2 separate regions of the Homo sapiens genome follow, and region 1 is linked to region 2. A link means that fine-mapping ties the variant in region 2 to the expression of a gene that starts in the linked region. Tissue or cell type: whole blood. Region 2 holds a variant in brackets; the other region holds the start of a gene. All regions are shown on one strand. Distances are from middle to middle. Region 1 holds the start of RNF144B (ring finger protein 144B). Region 2 overlaps RNF144B (ring finger protein 144B).

The links. PIP is the estimated chance that this variant, and not a neighbour inherited with it, causes the effect.
Region 1: it holds the start of RNF144B, and the variant in region 2 is fine-mapped to the expression of RNF144B in whole blood (INTERVAL, PIP above 0.99). The same link has a PIP of 0.9 or more in blood mononuclear cells.

What each region holds. Positions count from the first base shown.
Region 1 is chr6:18,379,803-18,396,474 of GRCh38, reverse strand. It overlaps RNF144B (ring finger protein 144B), which reads right to left and starts at 9,125. Exons shown (of 8, transcript NM_182757.4): 1 at 8,845-9,125.
Region 2 is chr6:18,403,839-18,420,510 of GRCh38, reverse strand. The region is part of intron 2 of RNF144B (ring finger protein 144B); the gene reads right to left. Among named protein-coding and RNA genes, the nearest start is that of RNF144B, 25 kb to the right of the region's middle. RefSeq lists an enhancer at 4,680-5,879. The variant G/C (reference allele first, on the strand shown) is at 8,273.

The DNA.
Region 1 (16,672 bases), 24 kb after region 2:
GATCTAGGTACTCTTCGAGAAATCCAAGTATTTCTCAGTCTTACTCTATATTATTTTTTTAGAAGGAAATATTAAACAGGCCAAAGTTTTAATGTACTCTTGAAAAACAAAGACATAATTGGGATACCTCTTAGAAATTAATTGGATACTCTTGAAAGACATATTGGATTCCTCTAATAATACCTCAATTATTATCCATAATGGAATACCTATAATTAGATATTTCTTAGAAATAGTCTTCTTTTGAAGGTAGAACTAAAAATTGTGGTAATCAAGACCATGTGAAACATAATTGTCTCTTACTATAAACAGTACGTAAGTTTTTACTCCTTAAAACTAAGGAGTTACATGCCTATAGGCTATGAAGTCAAAGTTATAAAAAACATATGTAATTTTTATAATAGAAAAACCTTTACATAGCAGAGATGCATTTTGTTTTTTAAAAAATTCCAAGCATTCCAAAAAGGCAGGACTTATGACTCAGTGACATAGAGGAAAAAAGTTACATATTTCATCTCCTTGAGATGTGAACAATCCAAAATGATTCTTCAAAAAGTGATTTATTTTTCTGTGTACAATAACACCAATTCCCTAAAGCAATGGCTCTCAGACATTTTTCAAGCAATGAGCTTTCAAAAACAAAAATCTTAGTCAAACCACCACTGTATAAAAGAGATTCAGGTAGACAAGTGCCAGCACCCAATAGTGGGTGTCCAGAGCCAGTCCCCTTGACCTTCCCCACTCAGCAGCCCCCCAGGCACCATTGCAGAAGCCTAAACCTGCACCATGCACAGACTAAAAACCAACCCTTTCGTTTCTCACTTTGGGCAAAACCAACAATGGATAGTTAAAAAAATGAATGAAATGCAGTGAGCACTTCATTTAAAAAAAAAAAAGAATATCAAACAAGAAATCCTTTCACCATTGATTCATTGCAAAATGAGCTCTTCAATCAGTAAACAGGAGAATCCTGAAAGCCTCTAATGAATTTCCCCACACCTGAGATGCCTGTGAATGGCTCCAAGGTTTCCTTGCATTTCTTCCTTTGTGTCATATTACTATTCACCGGTCTTCACAGCATGAAACCCCCAATAGTAGAGCCTCAGGAAGCTCAGGGCATTTGATAACACACTCCCAGCTCCTCCTGTCCCTCCCATTGGGCCACAACTTCACAGGGGCACAAGCAATTCACATCCACTCCCCTCCAGGTTTCAAGAAAAGTCTTCATTCCAGAAAGAGGCTAACTCACTCCTACTGCCTCATACCTCACATTTCTATCAAAAATAAGAAAGTGACTTGAATTATCCACCCTACCACTTGATTTTAAAAGCTAACAATTATAATTACTTTTACAGTGATTATAGATGTGACTGTGCCTCTCACCGAGTGTCAAGAACCCCTTGTGAAAAGAATTTTGGCAGAGAATGCAAGGGGCACCTTGAAATCTGACAGCTGCCTTTCAAGTTTAGGCATTCTAAGGTTGGTAGCAGGTATCACTTGCTTATATATACCTAATCATAGAACAAGACAGATTGGTTGGGCCATGTAAGGAAGGAAAGCCATTCTGAAACGTCTGAGTTTGCACTAAATTACCAGGAAAGGAGAACCAGCAGTTCTACCTGCTCTATGTGTCTCTTGCACTATAAAGTGTTCATTATATGAGAAGCAAGTACTATCTGATAGGAAAGAATGGAAAGTCGCCTTTCCCCTCGTGTCTTGTCATTAGAATTGTCAAAGAAGGGAATACTTCAGCACAGAATGTATAAGGAATTTTCATATTCTGCTGATGGCCTGAAAAAGCAATCTGCTCCAAAAATGCAAATGATGGGAGAGCCAACATTCAAAGCTTTTTTTTTTTTTTCTTGGTTGGGGGGTAGGGGACGGAGTATCACTCTGTCATCCACGCTAGAGTGCAGTGGCATGATCTCAGCTCACTGCAACCTCCACCTCCCGGGTTCAACCAATTCTCCTGCCTCAGCGTTCCAAGTAGATGGGATTTCAGGTGCCCACCACCACGCCGGGCTAATTTTTGTATTTTTAGTAGAGACGAGGTTTCACCATATTGACCAGGCTGGTCTTGAACTCCTGACCTCATGATCCGCCCACCTCGGCCTCCCAAAGTGCTGGGATTACAGGTGTAAGCCACCACACCCAGCTATTCAAAGTATTTTTAACCAATGTAGTTTATGTCTGTTTGATTATCCAAAATCAACACAGTTATTCCCTTACACAAAAAGATAGTGTAATTGGAAGGGATAATGTTTTATTAGGATACTTACCCTAATTATTATTAGGACACTTATCCCTAATTATTTTGGAATTTTTACTTTATTATGCAGAAACTTTAAAATTTGGAGAAACTGCTAAAGCACAACTAAGGAGACTAAGAGAAATAGAAAGCTACTAAAATGAATCAGCTAGATATTACTGATGCCACAGGATATTAATGTAAATAAAAATCCAGTTGATCTGCACTGAGGTCTTAATTCCAAGCTATGCTATGAAATTCTAAGAGTTACTCAAGTACAGGGGACAAACAGAAGAGGAGACATATGTATACTCTCAATGTGTTTATATGCCTTTGTGAGACATCGAGTCATCACTGTGAAGTAGCTAGAATAACAGATATGAATGCATAAATATGGGAGGGAGGTAGCAAAGGGGAAAGTTTTTGAGAAGGGTGGGTGGTGATGAAGAAAGGCTGAAGTGTTGCCTTGTAAAATGGAGACATATTCTCGGGAAGCTAATATTCTAATAAAGCAGAAAAAAAGAGCAGCAATCTAAAGGTCCCATCCTTGCCTTGTTAGGAAAGCTATCCCCATATCAGCTAAGAACACACCAGGCAACCAGTTTCCACTCAATGCAATCTGAAAATCAGCATTATGTTGATCTTGGTACTTCTGCCCAATAGAGTAGTTTGGTTAGCTACTGGTTCCTTTTCCTAACAGAAACTATTAGTGAACCCAATGGTACTAATTGAGTCTAGTAAAGTGCTGAGCATTATCAGCCATTAGCTGAAGTTCTACCCTAAATACAATCCAAATACAATGGCAGGGTGACCTGCTGGCTGGTAGCAGTAGCAACAGCAATGAAGGAAGCAAGGGCTTATGGTAGACCTCCTTTGTGGCCAGTGTTGTAGCTCTACTCTCCGCTTGCATCTCCAACCAGCTCTCTGGTCATTCAAGGACAAGATGAACCAGCGTACATTCTTTCAATCAGAAAAACAGTTCTAATGCATGCCCTAACCTAAGAGGACATGAACAAATGGAAACATAGGCTGCCCCTCTCGTAGTCAGGGAACTGCAATTACTTAAATAAACTGTATATCTATTAATTACTTTTTTTTTTTTTTTTTGAGATGGAGTCTCACTCTGTCTCCAGGCTGGAGTGCAGTGGCGCGATCTCGGCTCGCTGCAAGCTCTGCCTCCTGGGTTCACACCATTCTCCTGCCTCAGGCTCCCTAGTAGCTGGGACTACAGGTGCCCGCCATCACGCCCAGCTAATTTTTTGTATTTTTTAGTAGAGACGGGGTTTCACCATGTTAGCCAGGATGGTCTTGATCTCCTGACCTCATGATCTGCCCTTTTTAAAAGAATAATGCTCAAACTCAATGAGTACATACATGATATTACACATAAGTTGTCATTATTTGAAAAAATGAAATAGATTAGAAAATATCCTCTAGCATAAACAAACCCAGGAAATATTTAGGTCTTAGATGTAAGAAAGTAAATATTCACCTATTCAGGCTCTGTGAGGTGGCAGTATTGTATCACTGTGCCTCCTGTGGTAGAGAAGAGGACTTCTGTTTTCTCGCCACTGTTTCATGGCTTAAAGTGCTCAAAAAGCACTTTATTTAGTCTATAATTTCTTAGTTTTAACATCGTCATTTCAACAGTTTCTAGGATGGCAATGAGATCACAACTTTGTAACTTGGAGACTATTAACCTTCTAAAAATGGAACTGATATGCAAATATAGCCCTATTAACCTTTTTGTGGGTTAAAAAAAAAAAGTAGGCACTTCATCAGGAAGGAGAAGCATCTTAAAGTATTAGCAAGAACTGTTTTCCAAACAATCTCTTTGCTGCTTGAAATTAGGTTATGAATAAAGTCTGTTACAACTAATTTAGTGAGATCTAATATTTTTTCTTACAAAATATATATTGGTGCTGATGTCCAAGCATGGCCAACAATGTACATGACGTTGTGATAAGCTAACTCCAAATCCTACAGAGGACAGAACATCTGGCACATCGTTTTTTTTTTGAGACGGAGTCTCGCTCTGTCGCCCAGGCTGCAGTGCAGTGGTGCTATCTCAGCTTGCTGCAAGCTCTGCCTCCTGGGTTCACGCCATTCTCCTGCCTCAGCCTCCCAAGTAGCTGGGACTACAGGCACCTGCCACCACACCTAATTTTTTTTTTTTTTTTTTTTTTTTTTTAGTAGAGATGGGGTTTCACCATGTTAGCCAGGATGGTCTCGATCTCCTGACCTCCGTGATCCTCCCGCGTCGGCCTCCCAAAGTGCTGGGATTACAGGCGTAAGTCACCGCGCCTGGCCCTTGGCACATCTAGTTTTAACATTTGCAAACTGCTGCTCCTTTTTTTTTGAGATGGAGTCTGGCTCTGTCCCCCAGGCTGGAGTGCAGTGGCCCGATCTCGGCTCACTGCAAGCTCCGCCTCCTGGGTTCACGCCATCCTCCTGCCTCAGCCTCCCGAGTAGCTGGGACTACAGGCGCCCACCACCACGCTTGGCTAATTTTTTTGTATTTTTAGTAGAGATGTGGTTTCACCGTGTTTGCCAGGATGGTCTCGATCTCCTGACCTCGTGATCAGCCCACCTCAGCCTCCCAAAGTGCTGGGATTACAGGCATGAGCCACCGCAACTGGCTTTTTCTTAAAAGCACATTTCTTCTTGCCTTCTTTCCATGTTCTCATTACCCTACAGGGTAAGGCCCAAGAGGTAGAAATCCATTCCCAGTTTTCCAAACAATATAAACTTATCAAAGAAGGTGGGAGTGAATATGAGAATAACAGCTCAATGATATTTTTGGCATGGCAATTTTGCATTCATCATGGTAGCTACCTCTTCAATATCACCACTGTGCCTTGCCCACTCCTGTTTTAATCAGTGGTTCCCTGCCTCCCACAATTATTCACACAGCCCTGCTAAATAATTTTCTTCCCTATGCCTGGCATAACAACAAAGCTCAGAAGCAGGAAGGAACGCCACTTAAAGGCAGGTCAGACAATGATGTAATTGACCAATCAAGGAGAAGTGGTATTTCAAAGAGCCTTATAGAGCAAGAGCCAGGCTGATTTCTTGGGTCAGGACATTACCAGAAAACCAGAGCCGCTAAAGCACGAATATCTAAATCAAAAATTTTTTTTCAAATGAATAAAAGCATGTGCCAATATTACCCCCTCCTGTTAAAGTTAAAAGTTTCATATAGAAATTTTAATTAGAAACAAATTGGAAACCAGTTTGGAAGAGGAATCTTCACCCCACCTGAGCAAAGTGCAGGTGTAGATTTTTGTATGTCTTTGCCAATTAATTTCCTATAACAGGAATTTATCATGAAGGAAACAAAGTCAACACACAAAGAACAAATTCTACACATTAGGTGCTAGGGATGTAAAGGTGATTAAACCCAGCTCCTACTTATTAAGAGTCAACTAGTTGAGGAGGTTTTCAACAGAGGATTTCATATAATCATATGCAGGAGAATGTGTGGGTTTATGGTTTCAGCCACAAGTTCAACAGACAGAAACGAGTTGTCTTGTTTTATCTTCCCAAGAAAAACAAAGAACAAGTTGATGAAGGGCTGGGACTCAAACTCGTGACTTCAAAAGATTTAGAAAACAATGGGACATGGCTTTCAAAGTATGCTCTTAATAAATACTCCAAGCCATGTGATCAGAAGTATCTCCAGCTATGAATAAGAAAAGTCTATTTCACTTAGATTGCTGTGTTTTGAATTCAAGAAAGAGATCTGCTCATAGATGAGAAGATCCTCATTCCACGTTGCAGAAGCATTGGTCATTTTTACTCATTTAATATATAGTTATCCATTTTTTAATAACAACTATGGTATGATGCATTAGGTTCCAAAGTACTCACCGACTGGGTAAATAGCAAATGCCAAAGTTAATAAAACTAAAACTTTAGTCCAAGACCTCCCACATACACCTAAAGGTAAAAATTATGAATTAAAATATTTACATAAATTAACTTAGGTGTCATATACCTCTTAATGGTCAAATGGTCAAGGTAACACTACCAAGAAAATTAAGATGATCGAGGTGACAAACATCGAAGTACTTTTTATAATCTGGCAAAGCAATGTGAATTCAGAACTACCACTCTAGACCCAAGTCACTTCTGACCTTATGAGAATTTCTTCCGGACAGAGACCACATCTTAGCCATCTTTATATCCCAGCATCTAACCTAGCACCTAGCAAATCAGTCACTCAGTAGTAGAGTGGATAACTTTTCTGATTGTACTTGGAGGAGAGAAAATATTAAAGGCCTGGTTCTCATCTGTATTCACTTCCAGAAATTCACAAGCTGAAAATATTGACCATTTGTTTCAGGTAAGGAGCTTCTATAAATTAAGGTAGGCACCCCTGAAAGAAATGTTTCAGTACTTAGGAGCAATGGCTACAGATACCTATTCCCCAAAGTCCAAGTGAAAAGCATGACTTGTCTGGCAGCTTGGCCCTTTTCCCACATCCAAAATAATCAGTTGTACAAAGTAGGCTTAGTCCCAAAACTGCTCAGACTTTGTTCCTTCAGTAACATCTGGGTTCAGCATGATTCCTGACCTCTATCTCAAACTGGAGATTTCAAACACTAAAAACTTCACTCTCCAAGAAAGTAATGTCATAAAGTCAAGGCCAGGGGAAACAAAGAAGCCAGGATTAGCAGAAACACTTCGGAGAAAGGATTCTGACATACATATAAATGTTTCTAAACGTCTAAAATATTGAAATGACTTTTCAAGAAGGAAATTTTAAGTGCACCTCCTCAGATGAAAAATATTCATACTACTGAGGAGAAAGACGTTTTTCAGGAAGTTAAATGGTCATACCAGGTAGATAAAATAAGCTTTTTCTTTCCAGAGAGAGCATACTCTTCTCTCTGCTGTAGAGTTTGGCTCCAAAAACCTGGTTCATAATCTGAGACCCAAAAACTGATTATTTTAAAAAGACATGTCTTAAGCTGACCTAGTTTGGAAGCCTGAATGCCTTTAAATTGCCAATGAACTGAAACCATTCATGAGAATGGGCCTTTTGAATGCTGAGAATGTTCTTTGGGACTCAGCACAAAGATATTTGGCATAGATGACTGTAAATATTTGTAAAACTCTGGGTAAATGGGCAGGATTTGACCACACTCAAGCCCGACTTCCAGCACAGTAGTGTAGGAGAAAGTTATCTAGGGTGATTGTTTGGGGTTTTGGGGGGTTTTTTTGGTTGAGTTTTGTTTGTTTTAAATAAAAAGCCAAGCAACCCAATTCTACTACTCAACATCTTTTTCACGTTCACTATATATGTTTACCTTTTTTTAATCAAGATAATTAATTAGTCAGAGACTACTTTTGAAACTGAGGTTTTTCCCTTTCCCACTTTTCTAAGTTTATGCCCACGACAAAAATAAAAAAAAAAATGCCAGTCAAAGGTGTGCAAGGGCAGAGCAGGAGTTGTGTGAAACCATGACCTTGGATTTCATAATACAATTATCTACAAGTGGCTTTGTGGATCTGCTATAGGTTTTTCTCCCCCTCAGGATAGTTTTAGAAGTATTTAAGGCACTGCTGTCCATGAAAAGGACCCAGGTTGTGAAGGAAAGATAAACTAAGGAGAAGGAGGGACTCACAGAGGGATTTGATGTGAAAGGGACCAAGAGGCTCATTTCAGTGAAAGCTGCGGCAGACAGATACTCTAATTAGCCAGCAACTCAGTTAGGACTGGCTAGGTTCCTTTTGCCTCTTACCCACACCCTAAAAACTGAGTCATCCCAAAGTTCATTTATTTTGCTTCTGGGCACAGACACCCCCTAATCTGCTTCCTCAGAAATGTTAGATACATTGCCATTTAATTTATACCTCTCAATGTTCAAATAAACGTCCAGAAATGCCAAATCGGAAGAGCAGAGATAGTCCTGTTAAGAACCTCAGAGCTAATGTTTTGATAAGATACATGTGGCAGAAAGCAATATGAAACTGACAGTCTGTTATGAGAACATGAAAAAAGAACATTTCCCAGAGAAGGGAATTAATTTCTGGGAAATCTTTATGTGAATAGTGTATATGCATGAGGAGTAGACTTACAGCAGGATCCTTGAAACTCATGAGAAAAACAAAAGGTGTTTTAGAAAGAATAAGCAAAAGATACCTACCTTTTCCCTGCACAAACGACAATCAGTTCGATTTTAACTTAAATTTGAGAATGGCTCTCGTAGTATCAGAGTTTCACTGTTTCATTAGCAATTACCTGATAAAATAAGCACTATAATGCATAATCCGAGATTATGCCAACTTTTGGTCTCCCCTTAAGACCTAGGGAGAGGTCTGGTCTAATCTCGGATTCTACAATACATTCTATTATAGAAACTGTTTTATTAGAAATGAAACTACTTTCCTTTAACAAAGGCATTTTTCTTCTAAGTTAACAGGTGTTTAAGGCATTCAGAATGAATTCAGTTCTGTATGGTTTGAGCACTAGAGACAGAAAATCGAAAAATTGTGGTGTCACAGTGAGTTTCCTGTCCTTTTTCCTTAGTCCAGCAACACCATTCCGGTCTTGCAACGCCTGTAGCCTTTAAAAAGCTCGCTAAACCTACCTGGCAGCAGACCTGCGTTCCTCCGTCGCCGGGCTTCTCAGTAGCCTCCCTCGCGCTCACCGCCAGTCCGGGCTGCTGGCACACCGGACAGGAGCTCTTCCATTCTCTCCGTCTTTCCTCCGTGCTCTGCGGCTGACAGCTTTACACTTTGCAAGACTGCAACAGGACTTGCGCTCCCAGACCTACGGGTCGGGAGGAGGCGGAGTCCCCGACCGCCTCCTAGCCTTGACTGGCAGCTGCGATGCCCGGGACTGTTGCAGCGGGAGCGTGGGGCACAGCTCGCCAGCAGCGGTAGCAGCGCGTTTATTTATACAGGAAGCTCAGGCGCCGCACTTCCTACTTCCCATGTGGGTCGTACTTCAGCTGCAGGTGTTGGCCTTAACCCTATCCGAACCCGGGCGCGCTGCACCGACTCTACTGCTTGTCAGGACCTGTCTCTTGTTCTCCTGGGACCGCTGTTGCAGGAATTCAGAGCAGGGGGTGCAGGCAGCTGCCCCTAGCGCACTTCTTCTGCCCAGACAGGGACAGCTCACCTCTTGGCCTTAAGCGCCTGCTACCTCTCTGTCTGTACATATCCTCACAGGCCACCTTTCTTTATTTTCTCCCTCCTTCCCAGCTCTTTAAATCTCTTTCTTCTACTTCTAACAGCCCAGACCTGCCTTCCCACGTGGCAGACAACTGTTTTATAGAAACACTTCCCATGCACATCTCATCAAAAAACAGCTTGTACCTCACTTGTCCTTTTGCATCTAATGATGAAATTAGAATACCTGTGAATCAAATCGGGAATAATCTTAGTTTACCTCATAAAATACAGACACTTCTTGATGAAACAATGATTTCACTTGAAGTGCTTTGTAACTTAACTGGTTGTACCCTCAATTAAACAAAAATGTAACAAAATAATCCAGAAGCTGTGAGGTATTATGAAGTGCTTCCTTGCTCCAAACCCTTGGACACTTCATTTGTGTGACATTCATAATGAATCGCATACCTACTCATTCCCCATATCCCCCATAGATCACAATCACCTAAGTCTGCTGAACATTGCCATTTAGGAATGTCGCTCTGACACAAGAATCTGTGTTCACTCTGCAATCCCTCTCTACTTTTGCAACCACTGTCAGGAATGTGCTTCCTAAAAGGAAGGGACTCACAGGCCCTTTGTGGAAAGGATCTGTGCACGCCAACAGGCACCATTCCAAACGACACAAGCAAACATTGCTTCTCAGCCCTCCAAGTTGAAGAAAACCTCTAGGTCAAAGCAAAGTGCTGAATAACACAGTGTATCTACATGTGCCATGCTAGGGCAGGTAGGAGGACCAGCTCACCAGTCAGGGAGGAAGAGAAAAAGGACAGGGGCAATAAGATGATAAAAGAACCCACGGTAGGATATTTGAGCTTGAAAAGTCTTCCTAGCTATTTTAGCAAATAACCTGATTTTAAAAATAAGGAAACTGGGCTGGGTGCGGTGGCTCACATCTGTAATCCCAACACTTTGAGAGGCCAAGGCGGGCAGATCATCTGGGGTCAGGAGTTCAAGACCAGCCTGGCCAACATGGTGAAACCCCGTCTCTACTAAAAATACAAAAAATTAGCTGGGCGTGGTGGTGGGTGCCTATAATCTCAGCTACTCGAGAGGCTGAGGCAGGTGAATCGCTTGAACCTGGGAGGCAGAGGCTGCAGTGAGCCGAGATTGCGCCATTGCACTCCAGCCTGGGTAACAAGAGCGAAACTCTGTCTCAAAAAAAAAAAAAAAATAAGGAAACTGATGTCCAGGAAGATTTAAGAGATTGGCCCAAACCAGACACAGGCCAAGCTAGAATGAGACCTAAATCTGAGTTACATGAGGAAGGTGAATGTAAATGAAAACCATCCCAAAGGAAGTCCAACCTTCAGATTTAGCAATGGCTTAGGTTCTGAGATAATCTATTTCAAGGAATTTTCTTGGTATAGTGACCATTTTGGTGGACAGGAACTAGGAAAGATAAAAAGCAACCTCTAAGAGGTTAGTTTATTCATTGGTGTTGATGCAAATCTCCTGAGCCTTAAACCAAAGTTCAACACAGAGTCCACTTTTCAAATTACCATTCATAAATTATAATCTCTTGTTAACAGGATAAGGGAAGAAGCTGCTGCCAATATGAATGAGAACATAAGCACGAATAGTGCTGCCTATTATCCCAAATATTTTGCACAACTGAGTAACATCACCACTGATTATTTTCAACCATGCAACTATGCAAATTTTTTTTAAATTGCAGTCAAAATTTAATAAGACTAAATAAACACGTTGAATGCTATAATATTATGTGAACAAACTCTCTCAGATCTTCCTAAGGAGTCTACAGTGTGAATGGATATTCATTCTCTGGAGCATTTATTGATTTCCTCCCAGACAATCTGCTAGGTTGTATTAAGATAATGATATTAGACATGGTCTCCCTGTCCTCAAAGACCTCTCAATCCAGGGAAGGAGTAAGACAAGCAAATCAATTATCAGGGTACTGATAGTTGTACCCAATGTGTGAGTGATACATAATGTGTGATATGATAGACTTAAGCATGATGTGCTATTGGGAGCACAGAGAAGAAGAATTTAAAGGAAAGGAGTTGATGAAAAGAATCAAGTCTTCTCTGAGAAGGTGATTATATTAATCTGTTCTCACATTGCTATAAAGAAATAACTGAAACTGGGTAATTTATAAAGAAAAGAAGTTCAATTGGCTCATGGTTCTGCAGCTGCACAGGAAGCATGGCTGGGGAGCCCTCAGGGAGGTTACAATCATGGTAGAAGGTGAAGGGGAAGCAGGCACGCATGTCTTACGTGACTGGAACAGAAGCAAGGCGGGGTGGGGCAGGGAAATGCCACACATGTTTAAACAACTAGGTCTCTCAAGAACTTATTGTCACAAAAAACAGCACCAGGAGATAGTGCTAAACCATTTATGAGAACTCTGTCCCTATGGTCCAATTACCTCCCACCAGGCCCCACCTCCAACATCGGGGATTACAATTCGACCACGAGATTTGGCTGGGGACACAGATCCAAACCATATCAGTGATTTAAATCTATGTCTTCAAGTAGCCCAATAGGTGTGGTAGAGAAGGGTAAACCAGGCTGAGCAAACAGCTAAAACAAAGGGTTAGACATGAGACTCTAGGTGAAATTTTTCATAATTCAGACAGAGCTGATACATCCAGAATAAATGAATGAGGGTCTGAGCTAATGCAGTGACAACTGCCATGCAAAGGAAGGGAACCAATGGAGAGAGATTTCAGAAACAGAAGTGATGGAACTTGGTATCTGATTGGATGTTATATTAGTCCATTCTCACATTGCTATAAAGAAATACCTGAAACTGGGTAACTTATAAAGAAAAGAGATTTAATTGGCTCACAGTACTGCAGGCTTTATAGGCTTTAAGCATGATGCTGGCATCTGTTTGGCCCTCTGGAGAGGCCTGTCACATGGTCAAAGTAGGTGCAAGAGAGCGTTTCGGGGGGAGGGGGGAGGGAGGCGGTGCTACACACCTTTAAACGACCAGCTCTCACAAGAACTCACTATCCCCAGGACAGTACCTAGGGAGATGGTGCTAAACCATTCGTGAGAAATTTGCCCCCACGATGCAATCACCTCCTACCAGGCCCCACCTCCAACAATGAGGATTACATTTCAATATGAGATTTGGGCAGGGACACACATCAAAACTATATCAGATGCAGGGGGATAAGAGAAAAAGAATAGCCCCAACTGCTGGCACCACTAAGAGGGGGAATAAAAGAGAAGTGATGGTAAGGAAACCATGATAATTCAAATTAAGATCTATAGAATCAGAAGTGCCTCTGGGGCATACTGGAAAAACTGACCAGTAGGCTATCAACAGAGAGAGATCTAGGGTGGAGAGTCATTTGGGAATTGCCATCATTTAGGTGGTGGCCATAGATGAGATTACCAAAAGCTAAGACAACCCACATGCTATAGAGGGAAGCAGAGGATTTGGACCTTGGCAAACTCCACTACCCACTCATTATTATGTAACCTTAATGAAGTTATTTAATATACCCGAAACTCAGTTTTCTCATCTATAAAATAAGAATGATGACATTCATCTCATAGGCTGTTGTGAGGGTAAAAGTGGTTTTTTTAAGTAGCTACCAAAGTGCCTGATACACGGAGATGCCTGCACGATACAAATCTTGATGGGCCAGGGTGGTGGTTGGGGTGGAGGCAGTGACTGGCAGCTCCTGGAATTGTGTACTGCACAACCTGCTCAGCTGTACACCATGGTCCTGGCCTGATACACATTAGGAACTCAGTCAGTGTTATTTATCTAAGAAAGGGAAAGGGGAAGGAAAAGAAAGGGTTAAAAAAAGAGAACCCAAAAGAACATCAGTATTTAAAGGGTAGGTAAAAAAAAGGAGCCCTCAAACAAGTCTAAGAAAAAATTGCTTATTTTATACTACAAAAATAAAGGTAGGCCAGGCACAGTGGCTCACGCCTGTAATCCTAGCACTTTGGGAAAATCGCATGGCCTAAGCCCAGGCATTCAAGATTAGCCTGAGCACCTGTGATAGTGAGACCCTGTCTCTACAAACAATAAGAAATACATTAACAAGACATAGCAGCACATACCTGTAGTCCCAGCTACCCAGGAGGCTGAGGCAGGAGGATCACTTGAGCCCAGGAGGTCGAGGCTGCTGTGAGCTGTGATCACACCACTGCACTCCAAGCCTGCGCAACAGAGTGAGACCCTGTCTCAAATAAATAAATAAATACATATATTTTTTAAAAAAATAAGTAAATGTAACATTTCATATTTCAAACTGAAATGTAAAATCCAGACACTACAATCTACAAAAATATTTTTTAACTTTCTGAGCAATGACATATTACAAATTGTTCACCAGAGATTGTGCCTGTAATCCTAGCACTTTGGGAGGCCAAGGCAGGTGAATCATTTGAGGTCAGGAGTTCAAGACCAGCCTGGCCAATGGCTCACGCCTGTAATCCTAGCACTTTGGGAGGCTAAGGCAGGTGAATCATTTGAGGTCAGGCGTTCAAGTCCAGCCTGGCCAACATGGTGAAACCTTATCTCTACTAAAAATACAAAAATTAGCCAGGTATGGTGGCACATGCCTGTAATCCCAGCTACTCAGGAATCTGAGGCAGGAAAATTGTTTGAACCAGGAGGCAGAGGTTGCAGTGAGCCGTGATCACGCACCACTGCACTCCAGCCTGGGCAACAAAGCAAGACTCTGTCTCAAAAAAAAAAAAAAATTGTATTAACTGATAATATACCTAAAGTCATATAAAAGCAAATCAAAATAAATCTAAAACATACTTAAAGTTTTCCCTGCATGTGAGGCCAAAAAATAAATATAATTTACAGATCCTATATATGTGTAAGATACTGAAATAATATGTATCTACTACATAATATATAACATATAATAGGTATATATTATAAAGTGCATTCTACCCCTATATAAGAATCAACAAGTAGAATTTCTTCTTTGGAAAATTATTCTCTTTAATCAATAAAGAAAAGTCTAGAGTTGTTCTTGATATTATCCTTCTATTCTACCTTAGTACCTACGTTAGAAACACATACCTTAGACTTTACATCTTCCTTACATCCTGTGGTTAAAACATAATTTTTTTAATGGTTTGTTCGGTCTCAATAAATCAGCTATAAGAATGCAAGTACTGGGAAACCAGCTTCTGCAATAGATGCAGATCTCTCTCCACAGGAACAGATATAAGGCAAAGGTCATGGTGTTCTGACAGTTTGGTCATTTCTCATTTCCAAACAGCTACAATTTAATTTGCATTTTTCTATTGCATCTAACGGGGTGGATCTTATTCGTTCAGCATTATTGAGTGTTTCACATCTAGAACTAAGCTTAAGATAATACAAAATAAGACTATTACAAAATAGTATGATAGAAACTATGCCAGAGATGTATTCAGGGTAGCACAGCAGTCAAAGAACAGATATCGAACTACATAGAAAGTGAAACTGTGGGCCGGGCACGGTAGCTCATGCCTGTAATCCCAGCACTTTGGGAGGCCAAGGCAGGTGGATCACAAGGTCAGGAGATCGAGACCAGCCTGACCAACATGGTGAAACCCTGTGTCTACTAAAAATACAAAAATTAGCTCGGCATAGTGGCACATGCCTGTAATCCCAGCTACTTGGGAGGCTGAGGCAGGAGAATCACTTGAACCCAGGAGGCAGAGTTTGCAGTGAGCTGAGATTGTGCCACTGCACTCCAACCTGGTGACAGAGCGAGACTCTGTCTCAAAAAAAAAAAAAAAAAAAAAAGAAAGTAAAACTGTGACCAGAGGACATCATCCAGTTACATACACATATATAGGACATACACATATAGGACATACATCCAGTCATGTAGTATGATAACATAAGTTTCACAAAACTTGAGACATGTCATCTTGGTTATATTTCATACTTAACATGAAGTATCTCAACGCTTTACAGAGCAAGTCAAAACCAACTGGGACCCAACAAGAAAAAAACAGAATCATGTCCAACTGCCATTGCCATTATTCCACATGAGAGCCCATAATGACTCAGGATAGAGAGCTGAATGAGAGATCAAGACTCCACGGGATTCTGTCGTCCAGGACTCTCATATCCTATATGACACCACTAGCAAGTTAGGGTTAAGGACCAATGAGATCGTGGAGTTCAGCACCTCACTCTCTCCAGAAAAAAATGATTCTGCACTAGCCCTGAATTAAAATTCTCCACTAGAGAGTCAGAAGAAATTGTCTTGATAATCCTTATGTTTGCAAGGTTTACGGTAATCCTGCTATTACTGTCACCTCCAAATTCCTGCATAAGACAATCAATTTTGGGGGGAAAAAATCCCCAGTGTTCCCATAGTCATCACCACAGCCAATGTATTAACTAGTTTACAGGAAATGAAGCACTTCGTACTGTGCATTTGCATCCAGCATTGACACAGAGGACTGCCCTGAATTAAGATTCAAATTACTTCTTGGCTTAACAGATGGGGAACTCAATTCTTGGAATTCAGACTCCACCCTACAGACACCAAATTAGTCACAGGTAGGAATATTATAGATGTTAACTTTCCAGCAGGACTTTATTTTGAAAGGCACCTTAAAAACTTGTTTTCTCTATGACAGAAATGTCACGTCCTTCTTTTCTCCACCTTCTCCTTTCCCCATCTCCTCCCTCTTCCCGCAAAATAGTGAATCACCAAGTCCCCAATGAAACCAGGAAACCAGACAGAGTTAACAAACACTACCATCTGCAACAGATCAAAGAAACAAAAGTGAAAACATGGAAGCCAGGGATGGATGGAGTATGGAGAGGAGCAGAGAACCACTGCATGGGGAAATAAATGCAGGTACCTCAAGGGGGAGGGACCCTGTCCTGGATCCTACAGGAGACACAATATCCCCTATGCTGGCAAAGTCTATTTCCCTTCTACAGTTACTACTGGGTACCTGCCACCCTCTATACCCTCCATACCTATACCTTGAGAATATGTCTCAAGAGGGTTGGCTGTTGTTTCAATACATCTCCCCACAGCACATGTCACAGGACAGCCCTCGAGAAACATCTCATGCCTTAGTCTGTGCAGCAACAACCACAGACTCTGTGTGCCACCACGTTTACATCTCCAACAAAAAGGAACCTCGGAGAGGTCCTTCTTACATATCAGCAGTCCTAAAATAGATCTTTCTCATTCCCCTGAAAAGGAGTCACATTCAGATTAAACACATGACCGTGGGTTTAAATAAGCAATCATCACAGTCAAGTGACATGTCTTT
Region 2 (16,672 bases):
GCAAATGACTATCAACTTGCCTGCCTCCTCTATAGCCTAGAAGCTCCTTCTAGATCTAGATTATATCTGCTCCTCTTCATGTCCCCTACAAGCACCTAATCAATCACAGGACCTGGCACATAGTAGACACTCAGGCTTCTCTGAGAGCTGGAAGCCTGAATCCAGCACTTACTGGTTGAGTATCCCTAATCTGAAAATCCAAAATCTGAAATGCTCCAAAATCCAAAACTTTTTAAGCACCAATATGGTGCTCAAAGGAAATGCTTATTGGAGGATTTTAGACTTTAGATTTTCAGATTAGAGATGGTAGACTAGTAAGTATAATGCAAATATTCCAAAATCAAAAAAAAAATCAGAAACCCGAAACACTACTGGTCCCAAGCATTTCAGATAAGGAGATAGGGGATACTCAGTCTGTGCTCAACTTTGTGGCCAAGCTCCTTCACCTCTGATAACTGAAACATATGAACCCACCCAAACACACATCCATCCTCTGTTCTTCTTTTCTTGACACATAGGAGCCAACTCTGCTTTTCTGGTTCCCATCTCCTCCTGCCTTTCAGGAAATTTACCTATTCATTACCTGTTTTCTTTCCTATGTCTTGAATTTTGTCCTGTCTATACTTGAACATGTTCAAAATATCCTAATCAAAGAAATCAAAGAAAAGTCATAATAAAACAGCATAGAACAGCCCTCTCTCACTCCTCTTCCTGGCTGTATACTGCCTTCTTCACTCCTCAACTCTTCACAATCAAATGTTTGAAAGAGTTGTCTTCCCTCACTCCTTCACCAATCCCATCCCAACTCCTCCCTGCCACTCAACTGAAGTGGCTCTAGGTCACTGAATCCAGTACACATTTCTTCCTTCCCAACCTCTCAACAGCAGTATCACACACAGCTAACCACTCCCACCTTCCTGAAACCCTTTTTCCCCTTGTCTTCTGGATCCCATACTCTTCTGGTTTTCATTCTTCCTCTCTAGTCACTCTTTCTCAATCTTCTGCATTTTCCTCAACTCAACTTTTAAATGCTGGAATTTCAGGAAAGGACCTAAACTCTCTTCTTTCTACACTTTCTTCCTGGGTCGCCTCATTTGCTATATAGAACCAGTTGTGCTAGTCCACTGCCTATTTGCTCTCAGGAGAATATATCCCAAAAGGCCAGTGGTTCCCTAGCAGAGAGCAGTGCCCCCGAAGAAAATGATCTAAGCCTGGTATGTTTTTATGGACAAGAAACACTGGAAGATATGGGACACTACTGGGAAGGGTATCCTTAATAAAAAGCCATAGGCAGGAGGAGGAGGGGTGGATGGACAGAGGATAAGGAACTTCAGAGATAACATTCGCCTGCCTTACTATTCAACTACCTTACTGACAATGTTTCTCAAACTTGAATGTCCATCCAAGTTATTTGAGGATCCCATCAAAAATGCAGATTCTGATTCAGTGGATCTTGGGTGGGGTCTGAGGTTTTGCCCTCCTTGTAAGTTCCCAGGTCTCGTTGGTGCCACTGGCACACAAACCACACTTGTAAGTACCAAGACCCATGTCAAAGATTCTCCACATCAGCTTTTTAATAGAATTATCTGGGAAGGTTTCCAGAAGTCCAATGCCCAGGCCATACCACAGACCAATTAATTCAGACTCTCTAAGAGAAGGATCCAGGTGTCAGTGTATATTATATATATAGCATTATTATATATGATATGTAAATATTATATATTTTATATTATGTCATGTTTTATTGAGATATAATTCAGATATCTATAACTGAGATATAATTCACGTACCCATACAATGCACCCATCTAAAGTGTACAATTCAGTATTTTTAGTATATTCACAGTGTATAACTATCACCAAATTTGATTTTAGAACATTTCATAATCCCAAAAGAAACTCTGTGCCCATTAGTACATGCTCCCCATTTCTCCCCCAGATCCTCCATGCACAGCCCTAGGGAACCACCATTTGACTTTCTGTATGTATAGATCTTCCTACTCTCTACATTTCATATAAATGGAATGATACAATATATGGTCCTTTGTCAATGGCTTCACTTAGCATAATGTTTTCAAGATTCATACATGTTGTAGCATGTATTGGTACTTCATTTATTTTATTGCTGAATAGTATGCCATTGTGTGAATATACCACATTTTGTTTATACTTTCATCAGTTGATGGACATTTGGGTTGTTTCCAGTTGAGTGGTATTATGAATTATGCTGCTATGAGCAAGTTTTCATGTGGACATACATTTTCGTTTCTCTTGGATATTTACCTAGGAGTAGGTATGGTATATGGTAACTCTATCTTTGCCTTTTGAGGAACTGCTAGATGATTTTCCAAAGCAATTGCATCATTTTCCATTCCCACCAGCAGTGTATGAGAGTTTCAACTTCTTTAAATTCTCATCAAAACTCGTTATTTTCTGTCTTTTTTATTATAGCCATCTTAATGTGAAGTCGAATATCATTGTGGTTTCGATTTGCATTGCCCTGTTGGCTAGTGATTTTGAGCATCTTTTCACATGCTTATTGGTAATTTGTACATCATCTCTGAAGAAGTCCCTATTCAGAACTATCTATACTTTCATCTATTTGTAACTGAGTTATTTGTGTTTTCATTACTGAGTTGTAAGAATTCTTTATATATTCTAGCTGTATCCCTTATGAGATATGACTTGCAAATATTTCCTCCCATTCTGTGAGTTATCTTTTAACTTTCTTGATGATGTCCATTGAAGCAAAAAGGTCTTTAATTTTGATGAAGTCCAATTTATCTGCTTTTTCTTTTGTCGCTTATGCTTTTGGTGTCACATCTAAGAATGTCTTGCCTAACCCAAGATCATGAAAATTTTTCTATTTTCCTATGTTTTCTTCTTCTAAGAGTTCTATAGTTTCAGCTGTTATAGGTGTATGGTCCATTTTTGTTAATGTTTGTCTGTGGTATGAGGAAGATCACAGACATCTTAATTCTTTTGCAAACAGATATCCAGTTGTCCAGCACCATTTGCTGAAAAACATTTCTTTCCTCTTTGAATTGTCTTGGCACCCTTGTTGAAAATCAAATGACAAAAAATAAGATTTATTTATTTATTTATGGACTCTCAATTCTATTCCATTGATCTATCTGTCCATCCTCATGACAGTATCACAATGTTTTGATTACTGTCGCTCTGTAATCAGTTTTGAAATGAGGAATAGAGCTCTCCAACTCTGTTCTTTTTCCAGATTGTTTCACCATTCTAGGTTGCTCAAATTTCCATAGGAATTTTGGGATAAGCCTAGAATTTAGTCGGAATTTTTACAAGAGGTGTGTTGAATCTGTAAATCCATTTGGGGAGTACTGCCACCTTAACAAGTCTTCCAATCCATGAAGATGGGATATCTTTTATTTAGTCTTTTAAAATTTCTTTCTAGAGTATTTTGCAGTTTTCAGAGAATTTTCTACTTTGGTAAATTTATCCCTAAATATTTTATTCCTTTTAATGATATTGTAAATGGAATTATTTTCTTATTAATGCAATTATATTATTTCTTACTAGTATATGGAAATACAATTGATTCTGTACATTGATCTTATATTCTGCCACCTTGCTGAACTGTTATCAATATTTTTAAACTCTTGAAGTGATTCCCATTTGCAACCAAGTCTAAGCACCACTAGTTCAGTACCACCCATGCCCTCCATTCTAATCAGGGAAGATACTTTTATGCCCCTCATCACTCTTTTCTACCCAACCTCTCCATAGAGAATACAAGCATTCAGCTAGTTCCAAAAGAAACAGCAAAGGAAGCTTAAGGGGGAAATTATATATGCAAAATTTAAAACTCTGATTGAGAGCCTTTAAATACTTTAGCCCAAAATAGTGCCGTTACATTTTCTGGAAAAGATTACTAAGATCCACCTTGTAAGTTTGAGGACAGTCATTCAATATGGGAGATTAAATCTGGACTCCAATCAAAAGTACCTCCAGTTCCCACCAACCAAGAGTGATCAAACACGTCTATCTTTATCTCAAATGATCATGAAATATCTAAATTAAGAAACTCTATGACAGAAATAGCTCTGAAGAGAAACCCATTGGAAATGCTGCAGCCTGGTCCAGGCTTCACAAGAAAGCCAAACAAATTTGCTAAAATGGAAGAACATTCCAATCAGAGCAGTGAACTGGCACTAGCGTTGGAAAAATCTGCTTCCAATTTGAGTAATTCAATCACTCATCCATTAACCTTTCAGAGGAGTTTCCTTTTGTCCCACTTGTGCTGCCTTTCTTAACAGAAGGAGGCCCCACTTTTTATACTAATCCCAAAGAGATCCCTCTGGCCCAGGTGCTATCTTATGACACAGTATGCTCAGAAAAGTAACTGACCATTCCAGGAGAAAGAAAACAAGAAGGCTTGCCAAGTTTACATCCTTCTACTTTCTCCAAAGAAACATTAGCCTTCAGAACTGTAAGCCCTCAGCTGACACCAAAGCCTTAGCACACAGACCCAGCACAGGCAGTGAGAATAAGCATACCACGGATTCAGCATAGCCAGATTCCACTGAATTCATTTGTCATTTCATTCTTCCTCCTACTATTAGAGTCTCTGCTTGAACTGTTAGCGCTTCTGAATCTCTAAAAGTGCACTTAAGGTCCCAGCAACACAGAAAAAAAAAACAAAACCCAAGTTAGTAAAGGTTCAAGAAACCCCTTCAACCATGAGGTACGGCTATGCTAGTCACCTGAATAAAATATAACCATTCAACCCAATCTAAGCAAACACATTGAGTACTCACATTCCACTAGAGAATGCAGAATGAATATTAAACTACACCATGCAAAGGACAGCAGGCTAAACAGACGGAGAGATATGTGATAAAGCAAGCAAAAAGTTAATGTTAGAATCCGCTATGATTTGAATGATGGTGTCCCCTTCAAAATTTACGTTAAAACTGAACCCCCACGGGAGGTGATTAAGTCACGAAGACCCCACTCTCATGAATGGAACTGGCACCCTTATGAAAGGGCTCAAGGTTAAAGGGAGTGCTCTCTTGCCCTTCCATCTCTTCTGTCACGTGAGGACACAGAATTTCTCCCCTCCAGAGGAAGCAACAGTAAGACGCCATCTTGGAAGCAGAGAGCCGCCATCACGGGACACCAATCCTGCCAGCACGTTGATATTGGACTTTCCAGCCTTCAGAACTATGAGTAGTGGATTTCTGTTGTTGATAAATTACCTAGTCTCGCGTATTTTGTTATATCAACACAAAAGGACTTAGGCACAATCTAAGAGATAGTTGGTATACGGTCAGCCCCCCGTCCTCAGATTTCACATCCATGGATTCAACCAACCACGGACAGAAAATATATTTTTAAAATCACAATAAGAAATACACAAAAAATACAGTAGAAAACCCATTTATATAGATTTACATTGTATTAGATATTATAAGTTACCTAAAGATGATTTAAAGTATATGGGAGGATGTACATAGGTTACATGCAAATACTACACCATTCTATATAAGGGACTTGAGCATTCATGAATTTGGGTATCTTTGGGGTGGGGAGTGGGAAGGGGCTTGGAACCAATATCCTGAAGATACCAAGGGATAACTCTACAGGTATTTGTTGTAAAAATCTTTATCTTGTTTCATAACAAACTGTTGTACAATTTTTTCCATCTTTTTAAAAGTTTTTGTTCTTTTTCACCTTCAAGAATAGAAACAGGATGTTGTACAATATTTTAAAACTAAAAGCAAAAGATAAAATTTATACCATTCATCAAATCTCAGATTTTAATACTGCTTAAAAGCAGAAATCCTATATTTTAAATAAAATCTGTCTCAGTATTTAAACCAGTTTGAATAAATTATAATGAAATAATATCTTAATTAAAACTAATCATATATATACCTACTACGTATCTATACAAATTAAAACATTTTTAAATAAAACTAGTGGTAGCAATATTAATAACTATCTGAATTTTTGAAATTTTAAAAGAATATTAACACTGTATAAGTGACAGAATAAAGCTAACTCATCACCAACATTTTTTCCTACAGGATATAACCTACAAAGCCAGCATGCAAAATAGCTCATATTAATGACCCAAAAGTTGGGAAAGAGTGACGCTTAACAGTTTCCTCAAGAAGATATTATTTCTATACATGGAATGATAGGAACAAGGGACATCAGTTAAGAATAGACCTAACCCTTAAACTTCCTCTTGAGCTACATTACAAAAGAGAATCTCTTAGATTTAAGAGAACTGAACTCTGAAAAAGTAGAAAAGGTTGGACAATGACTAGGTTGGTTATTAGAAATCTCATTTTATTCAAAATTATTTTGAAATAATGATATTCAATGACTCCACAGCAAAATCAGCATCTTTCTAATTATAAGTTACATTGCATCAAGACCACGACTATTCCTCACCTCACAATATTCCCCCGAGGATTTATCCTGCAAAACCTGGAATTTTTTTTAACATTTTCTAAAAAGCAAGTTTTTAGAAGTCAAGGGGCTTCATATTGAGTGGGCTTTTTTCATATTAATTGACATAATTTGAACCAGTCTTCCTTTTCTGAAGGTTATCAATACCATAAACCGTAAGATAAAGTTTTTCAAAGGCTAGACATCATTCCATATTAAAACAATCTTTAATTAACACATTACCTAGGGAAAGCAGATGTTAAGCTATAATATTTTTTTCCATTTGCAGAAAAGGTCTCTGTGCTCTGCAGTAACCCATGCATTAAACACCCTCAACACAGAAGAATCACTTGGAAACAACCGTCAGACTGAGGTCCTCTTAAGAACACCAGTAACTTCCACAGACACAATGCGCCTGGAGGGTGGGAGAACATCAGTCATTGAGGCAGAATGCCTGGCCTTGAACCTTGACTTCAGTTTCAACATCTGAAAATATGCTAAATGCACTGGGAACTTCCAGTTGTGTAAATCAGACCTCTGAATGTCTCGGCCTTGGTTTCCTCAAATAACTTACCCGAAATCACACAGTGGAAAGTTCACAGAACACTCATGTTCATGCTCAATCTCTAATATGAGGCCATGGCCACCACTATATTCTGATTACATACTTTCTGTTCTCTGAAAAACTCCTTGGATTTTTTAAACCAGTAGTTCTTTACATTTGTTTTGTACTGACTAAACTTTTACGTATATAAAATCAGTAGCCAGTTGTCAATTTTGCATTTTATAGGCTATTGTCAAGCTTTAGACATTTCAGGTTAAGATCACAAAAGCCAAATATGGGCCTTCATCCATTTTCATGCTAACAAAAAAAATTTAGGAACCACATACTATGTGCTAGGCCATACATTATATATTTTCACAGAGCTTGTTTTTATTTCTTCCAAACGACACTATGATGTAGGGATTAACATTACAGATCCTGGGCAAGTTATTTAACTCTGAATTGGTTTATCTGTAAACTGGAAGAGTAAATGGGGGAAAAAATAGTACCCTTGCATATTACATATTATATGAAAGGTACTCAAATGCCCTTGCTTTTCCTTCCGTAATTTTTTTAAACAGATGAATAAAATGAGGTTTAAGCAGATTGAAAAAATACCCTACATTCATGTAGTAAATACCTCACACATATTTTCCAGAAGAGTCAAACCAAAAAGACCTCCTTACTGTGGGTGGGAAATGATTCAAAACCATGGAGGCTTTCAGTTAACACAGAGCCATGTATTTCCATGGAAATGAGGCACTGTGTCTCACCTGATTCCAAGGGGTACACTGCATATCTGGAATCCACATAGATAAGCCTTATATAACCAATCTTTAATGAACTGAAATATACAGAAAATGGGATTTTAAAAAACTGAATTTTCTAGTTAACTCACCACCCTTTTTCAACTTGCCTAAATTTTTTAAACCTCCTTTACCTACTTAGTAACATTTTGTCACTGGACATGAATTTTTTTGTGTGATAAGGCATCTCCCTCAGTCTGAACACCACCATTTTTTCATTCATTCATGTCTTCTATGTGTAATATACTTTTCTAGATATGGCCCATTTTTTTCTAACTTGATTACTATTAATACCAAGGTATAAAATCAGTTGAAACTATACTGGCACTGAGCATACTGTATGTTTTTTAAAGATAGATTCATGAGATGAGCTTCTCTTACAACAATTTGCTTCCTCCTAAAAAGAGGAAGTATGGATTAAACCATGAGATATGTTCTTTTCACATACCAGATTACAGAAGGTGAAAAGTTGGAAAATACCCGGAGTGTCAAAA[G/C]AGAGGCCTCTGTTCCTACTCTGTTGGTGGAGTTGCCAAGCTGGTGCAACAGTTTGGAACAGTAATTTGGTAACACATACTGATTTAAAATGTACATCTATTTTGGTTAGGCAATTCTATTTCTAAAAAGTTATCCTAAGGACAGGTATTTTCACATTTATATAAGTAAAAAAAATGTATTCATAATAGCAAAAACTAGAAACAACCTTAAAATCCATTATTTAGGAGGGGCCCAGTTAAATAAATTTTCATACAACCATATCATAGAACACTATACAATACTTAAAAAGGAAGGTTGGTCTGTATATTTTTGCACAGAAACTTGTCCACAATGTACTATGTTTGTAAAACTCAAGTTAAAAGTATCTGTAGTTAAAGATCCCATTTCTCTATTAAGTGATGTGCGTAAGTACACAGGGAAAGAGTCTAGAAGAAAGTACAGGTGGGCTGGGCGTGGTGGCTCACGCCTGTAATCCCAGCACTTTGGGAGGCTGAGGTGGACAGATCACCTGAGGTCAGGAGCTCGAGACCAGCCTGGCCAACCCCCTCTGTACTAAAAATACAAAAATTAGTTGGGTGCGGTGGCGCATGTTTGTAATCCCAGCTACTTGGGAGGCTGAGGCAGAAGAATCACTTGAACCCAGGAGGCAGAGATTGCAATGAGCCGAGATCACACCACTGTACTCCACCCTGAGCGACAGGGCACAACTCCGTCTCAAAAAAAAAAAAAAAAAAAAAAAATATATATATATATATATATATATATATATATATATGAATCATGCACATGCTTTTTGAGGTTTTTTGGTTTATTTTTAAATTAGCATGTGTTACATTTATAATTAAAAATTATCTTCAATGTAATAAACCAAGAGAGCCCTGAAACATGATTATTTTGTACTTTAGGGTCCTATTTCTTCTATGAGTACTAGCCATGATTTTTAAAAATGTACTTTCACTGGGCACGGTGGCTTATTCCTGTAATCCCAGCACTTTGGGAGGCCGAGGCAGGCAGATCATAAGATCAGGAGATCGAGACCATCCTGGCTAACATGGTGAAATCCCGTCTCTACTAAAAATACAAAAATTCCCTGGGAGTGGTGGCACGTGCCTGTAGTCCCAGCTACTCAGGAGGCTGAGGTAGGAGAACTGCTTGAACCCGGGAGGCGGAGGTTGCAGTGAGCAGAGATCACGCCACTGCACTCCAGCCTGGCAACAGAATGAGACTCCGTCTCAAAAAAAAAGAAAAGAAAAGAAGAAAAAAAAAGAAAAGAAAGCTGACAGTATCCCAAATGGATAGGAAAAAAGAGAAATTGGGGCACAAAAATAATTTAAATACTCCAGGCATCAAAACTGCAGTCTGCCATACACATGTATCCTAAGTTGATAAGGACATTGTTCTCCGAGCTCTGCTTCAGCCTGCCATGGTTCCCTCCTCCTGCTCCAGCCTTGCCCACTTTCAGTCCATTCTCTATCCTGTACCGACGCCATCCTCCCTATCTCATTCCCAAACAAAGCCTTCCAGTGGCTCCATAATGTTTTTTTAACACAGCATACCAGGCCCTCCATCTAGTCTCTGCTTGCCTCTCTGGCCTCCTGCCTGAGCACACCCACACTTCCAACAATGTGTCCCAGGAACATCTTCCGGTTTGGTTCCTCAGCAGGTCACTCTTCCCTGATTCTGTGTTCTCACATGTGGCTGGCCTCTTTTCCCTGGAGCACTGTTCTCACCCACAGCCCCATCAACAATGCCATCAAGCAATCCCTATTATCTTTCAGTCTCAGCCCTTAGGAAACCTCCTACCTCCCTGAGTCTATTTTAGGTGGGTTTCTGTATGCTTTATAACATATTGTACTTCCTTTATCAGAGGGTCTACTGCCCACATAACAGCAGGGCTGGTTGTGTCTGATGACTGCCACTTGCTCCACAATTAACACCATGCCTGGCACACACTAGTACCAAATGGATCAGTAGAGTCTGGACAAAGGTGGGAATAGACTTAGAGAATATTGGAATAAGGGTGCAACTTCAAAAGAAGAAATACATAAACTTTGGTGACTTAGTGGCAACAATGGAAAAGTTCTCTCATCAGAAACCAACTTTTGCCTGCTCTCTGGTCATGATTTGCATGTTTGGCCAGCCTATTACATTCTGATATGTGGTTTGAAGAATTAAACTTTGGCAAAGGCATGCTTAAGGGGGGAAAAGTCTACACAACATACAAGCACAGATCACCAAACTATCTTTTCACAACTTCCTTTGTAAAAAGAAATAAAATTCTGTTCCACATTATAACATCACCCCTTACCCGAATACCAAGCCTAAAGTACTTGTTACGCCTATGATCGAAGTAAAAAATGTTATGTAGGCCGGGGCGCAGTGGCTCACGCCTGTAATCCTAACAGTTTGGGAAGACAAGGCGGGCAGGTCACTTGAGGTCAGGACATCGAGACCAGCTTGGCCAACAAGGTGAAATCCCATCTCTACTAAAAATACAAAAATTAGCCAGCATGATGGCACCTGCCTGTAATCCCAGCTACTCAGGAGGCTGAGGCAGGAGAACTGCGTGAACCCAGGAGGCGGAGGTTGCAATGAGTCAAGATCGTGCCATTGCACTCCAGCCTGGGGGACAAGAGCAAAACTCCATCTCAAAAAGTAAAAAAAAAAAAAAAAAAAGGTTATGCAAGTGAAGTTTGTCCCAAAAGAATTCTGTCAACCCAAGAGGGTGGGGGAGGGCATAAGTTACTATTTCTTAATATACCTATGGCAAGAAGGTAAGATATGTTAAAGTATGTTCAAAGAGATCTACCCAGAAAAAGAAGAGTTTTCCAGGGTTTTTTTTTTTTTTTTTTTTTTTTTTTTGAGACAGTCTCACTCAGGTGCCCGGGCTGGAGTGCAGTGGCAAGATCTCAGCTCACTGCAACCTCCACTTCCCGGGTTCAAGCAGTTCTCATGCCTCAGCCTCCCAAATAGCTGGGATTACAGGTGTGCGCCACTGTGCCTGGCAAATTTTTGTATTTTCAGTAAAGACAGGGTCTCACCATGGTGGCTAGGCTGGTCTCAAATTCCTGGCCCCAAGTGATCCACCCGCCTCGGCCTCCCAAAGTGCATGAGACACCACACCTAGCCAAATTTTCCAGTTTCTATAGAATTGTGTAAATATACTAATAAAGCAGGAATATAACACACTTAAGGAATATATCACACTTTATTAGTTAACTTAGAGGCAATGGGATGAAAGGCAGACCCTGTAAAGGTCATGAGATGCTCATTTTGCAGAGAAAAAAAAAAAAAAAAAACACTTTTCTGGACTATATAGGTGGAGGCATTACCAGAAGAAAAATAATAATTCACGGATTTGTGTCTTTAACTGTGTTCCCTAGAAATTGATTCAGGGATGGAGAATTCCATTTAGAAGAGTATGGGGTATACTCTCACCAAAGTCATGCCTATAAGGAAGTAAGGAGAATAGAAGTGGGCAGAGGGAGATCCTGACCCGCCATGCAGCTGCAGCCAGGGTCTGATCTGGCCCTACATTCCAACAGGGTACTCTCAAGGTAGGAAGGGCCCTTCGCAGCGGCACCTCATTAAGCTGAAAGGGAAAGACCTTTATATCCCTGTAGCAATCAGTCATTGTTCCATAAGCCAGTCCCTGGGAAATGGAGGATAGAAACATTGCCCTGAAGAGGGATCCGAGTGAATGCCACAGTTTCCACTACAGTCATGTTTCCATCCAAAATAGAATAAGATCATGCTAATTTGATTACAGGACCTAAATGTAGAAGATAAATGCATATTAAAATAGTAACTAGTAAGATGAATGATATATCTTCCTTACCAAACTGAAACCTCCCATAGGAAAACAATTTGGCTGGTTAAAGTAATTGAGGATTCTCAGCTTAAAGAAGAGAAAATGATGAAGAAAAAGAAATCATGGTTTTAGAAAAATCTCAAGCTGGGTACAGTGGCTCACATCTGTAATCCCAGCACTTTGGGAGGCCAAGGCGGGAGGAACACTTGAGGTCAGGAGTTCCAGACCAGGCTGACCAACATGGTGAAACCCCATCTCTATTAAAAGTACAAAAATTAGCCGGGCATGGTGACAGGCACCTATAATCCCAGCTACTCAGGAGGCTAAGGCAGGAGAATCACTTGAACCCAGGAGGCAAAGGTCACAGTGAGCTGAGATCGCACCACTGTACTCCAGCCTGGGCAACAAAATGAGATTCTGTCTGGAAAAAAAAAAAAAAAAAGAAAAAGAAAGAAAGAAAAAGAAAAATTCCAAACCAAGCCACCATTTTTACAAATGAGGAAATTCTAGAGAAATAACTTGATTCGAGTCATAGAGTTATTGACAGAATTGGAACTAATAGCAGGCCTACTTATCTCACTACTAGATAGCTCACTATTTCCTACATTGGACTGAGCACTATAGGAGAATTTTTCATGAGTAATCTGACGTCCGCCCTCTAAAAAAAAGATAACCTTCATTCAAATAATATGCAGCTAGTGAGTAGAATTAGATTTCAACCAGGAATAGTAAAATTAGATTCTAACCAATTTTATTTTAGAGAGTGGAAGTAACGCTAATAGTTAGAATTTACATAGAAACCAGTTTCAAATGAATGTAGAGCAAAGATGGTTTCAATTTAGAAATTTCCAATAATTGAATAGTCAGTACTATGGTATGTCCCAATCCTGGAAATTATCAGTCAAAAGCTAGATAACCACACTAAAAAGAGTAGAGCTATATATGCTAGCTGTATTCTGGCAGTGTACTAAGTAATTTATCTAGATTATCTACTGTAATCTTCTATATAATCTTGTGAGATGATTTCTTATTATCCCTATATTACATGAAAGAAAATGACCCAATAGACTGCCCAAAGACATTAACCCCTACCATCTGCTGGTCCAGGCCACTATCATCTCTGGCCTGGATTATTACGTTTGCCTTCTAAGTAGTCTTCTTGCTTTCACCCTGGCCCCTGTAGTTTATTCTCTATGCATAAAGGTTAATTTTGTGTGTCATCTTGGCCACAGGATGCCTCCTATATGCCTCATTTCTGGGCATGTGTGTGTGTGTTTCTGGATAAGATCAGTGATATAGCTTGGCTCTGTGTCCCCACCCAAATCTCATCTTGAATTATAACCCCCAGATGTTGAGGGAGGGACCTGGTGGGAGGTGACTAGATTATAGGGGCAGTATCCCCCATGCTGTTCCCATGATAGTGAATTCTCACGAGATCTGGTTGTTTGATAAGTGTGGTGCTCTCTTTCTCGCCTGCTACTATGTAAGACGTGGCTGCTTCCCCTTCCACCATGATTGTAAGTTTCCTGAGGCCTCCCCATCCATGCAGAACTGTGAGTCAATTAAACCTCCTTCCTTTATAGATCTCAGGTATTCTTTATAGCAGTGTGAAAACAGACTAATACAATCAGCACTTGCATCGGTAAACTGAGTAAAGCAGTTTACCCTCCCCATTGCGAGCAGGCATCATCCAATCCATTAAGGGCCTAAAAAGAACAAAAGGAGGAAAGAATTCGTCTCCCTGCCTGACTGCCTGAGCTGGGACATCAGTTTTCTCCTGCCCTCGGACTGGGACTTATACCACTGGCTCTCTTAGTTCTCAAGCCTTCAGACTTGGACTGGAAATACACCACTGGTTCTCCTGGGTCTCCAGCTTGCAGAGAGAAGATCATGGGACTTAGCCTTCATCTCCTACTACTCCCCCTACACACACACACACACACACACACACACACACACACACACACACTTTTCCAGCCACACCAGCCTCCTTTGCTGTAACAGGATACACCAAGCACACTCCCAACTTAAGACCTCCATACTGCTTCCCTCTGCCTACAACCCTCTTCTCCCAGATATCTGTATGGCTTGTTCCCCATTTCCTTCAGGTCTCTGCTCAAATAACACCTTATCACTGAGACTTCCCTGATCATCTAATAAAGTAGAAGTCCCTCTTCCCCACAGCACTCCTGACCCCCCTCACCCTATTTTTCCATAGCACAAACCATCACCTGACTTCTGTATTTACTTGTTAGCATCTATGTCTCATACGAAAAGTTGAGTTATTTGAAAACCAGGGCTTAATCTGATCGTTCACCACTATATTCAAACCATCAGAACTATGCAAGACACAGCAAATATTTGTTGAATAAATAAAGCCTAAGCTACCAAACTTGAGACCCATTCTCTTAAATGCCAAACCATACTGGCATCCCAGAAAATGACTTCTTTCATTAGGAGGGTGGGGGAACTAGAAGATCTAAGGTCACTTACAATTCTAGGACTATGATGCTATGACAAAGACATTAGGGCCTTAATAGTATGGTTTTCTTCTGCTGTTCTTTCCTCTCTTGCCACATTTTACTACTTTCCTTGAATAAGTAAGTGGTAAGCATTAGGCATGGATGAGATCATAGGTCCAGGAAGCCAGCTCCTCCTTGAGTCATCTCTAATCCATTTCTCATGCTGTTACTGTTTGCTCTTTTTCCACAGATGCCATCTGACCCTGCAGTGGCTCCGTTGTCAGTGGAAAAATATAGTGCCAATAAAATCGGCATTGTAAACCTGTGACTTGACCAATAAATACAAAAGTCACCATAGTATTGTCATTAAATCTCTTAATGGATATAAGCAGTGAGTATATTGAAGTTATTTCACAAACAAAGACAAATTCACTGATTTACTGCTAACCACCCCAAGCAAAGTTAAGGGAAAGCATAAAACTAACCTTGCGGCTGGGCACGGTGGCTCACGCCTATAATCCCAGCACTTTGGGAGGCCGAGGCAGGTGGATCACGAGGTCAGGAGTTCAAGACCAGCCTGACCTACATAGTGAAACCCCAACTCAACTAAAAATACAAAAAAAATTAGTCAGGCCTGGTGGCACATGCCTGTAATCCCAGCTACTCCGGAGGCTGAGGCAGGAGAACCACTTGAACCCGGGAGGCGGAAGTTACAGTGAGCCGAGATTGTGCCACTGCACTCCAGCCTGGGCAACAGAGCAAGACTCCATCTCAAAAATAATAATAACAATAATAATAATAATAATAATAATAAAGAAAAAAACTAACCTTGCAAGCAAGCATATTTAGGTACCAGAAACCAACAGAATAATACAGTGCTTTGAACTGGCAGAACTTAGTTCGGCCCATTTAATAGTAGTAGAAGACGTGGGAATCTGGAGCTGGAGAATTTGAAAGCTTTGGGAAAGGTTGGCAGGTCTCATGACCAGAAGAGGGGACAGAGAATCATTCTGTGGCATTGGCCTTGAGTAAGATCCCTCATTATTTCTTGTGGTTCCAGAGAATTCTCAATAAAAGGAACTTAAAATGATACTAGACTAACATATCAAGCCAACAAGTAATTATATTATTATGTTCTTGGAAGTAAGCAAGTTCTTAAATATGTGGTACTTTGAAACACCCTTTCATCTGAATCTTTTATATCCACCATAAATGTGCTCATCTATTTACTGTCAAAGTTGTATTGGCACTTTTTTTTCCCTGTTAAGTCCTAATTCTAGATATTTAGTTTAAATATTTCAAAGCCACACTTTGAACAAATCCAAAAGAGACATTTCTCTCTATCCTAACTGCTAATCTCTGAGTATCTCAGAATAGCAGTGAGGTTGTAATTACCTATATAACCACCTTTTTATAAAAGGCTAGTGAGGAAGCCAGTCAAATCATTATAGGCTTTCCTTTCTCTGAAATCTTTTTGAAGAACGTAACAGCTCAGCACACTGATGGATCTTAGGAAATAAAGGTAGGTATTGTCAACCCCTCCCTCCCTCCGTCTTACAGGCAAAGAAACTAAAGTCTAGAGAAGGCAAACAACTTGCCCCAAATCATACACCATCAAATGACAAAGCCTGAACTTGAGCCTGAGTCTTCTTATCTCCATATCTGCATTCTAACACACTATGCTATACTGCAAGGGAGAAACAGAGGTAGAAATAGGAAAGTGGCATTACTTTCTCCTAATGCAGGTAACAGTTAGAACCCAGGAAAGATCCACCACAGATTCATGCTTCATTTGAAAGTTACCAAACTGTGTGTGCACATACACATTGCAAATCCTCCCAAACTGTAAATGTCTCTGCTATGGTTTGGATATGGTTTGTTTATCCCCACCAAAATTCACATTGAAATTTCTTCCCCAGTGTAGTAGTGTTGGGAGGTGGGACCTAGTTGGGGAATGGCTTGGTGCCACTCTCTAGGTAGTGGCTGAGTTCTTGCTGTGGCGAGAATGAATTAGTTCTTGCGGGAATGAATTCTTAATAGTTCCTGCCAGAGTGAGTTTTTAGAAAGCCAGGATGCCCCTTGGGTTTTGTCTCTTTTCACATGTCCACTTTCCCTTTGACCTTCTC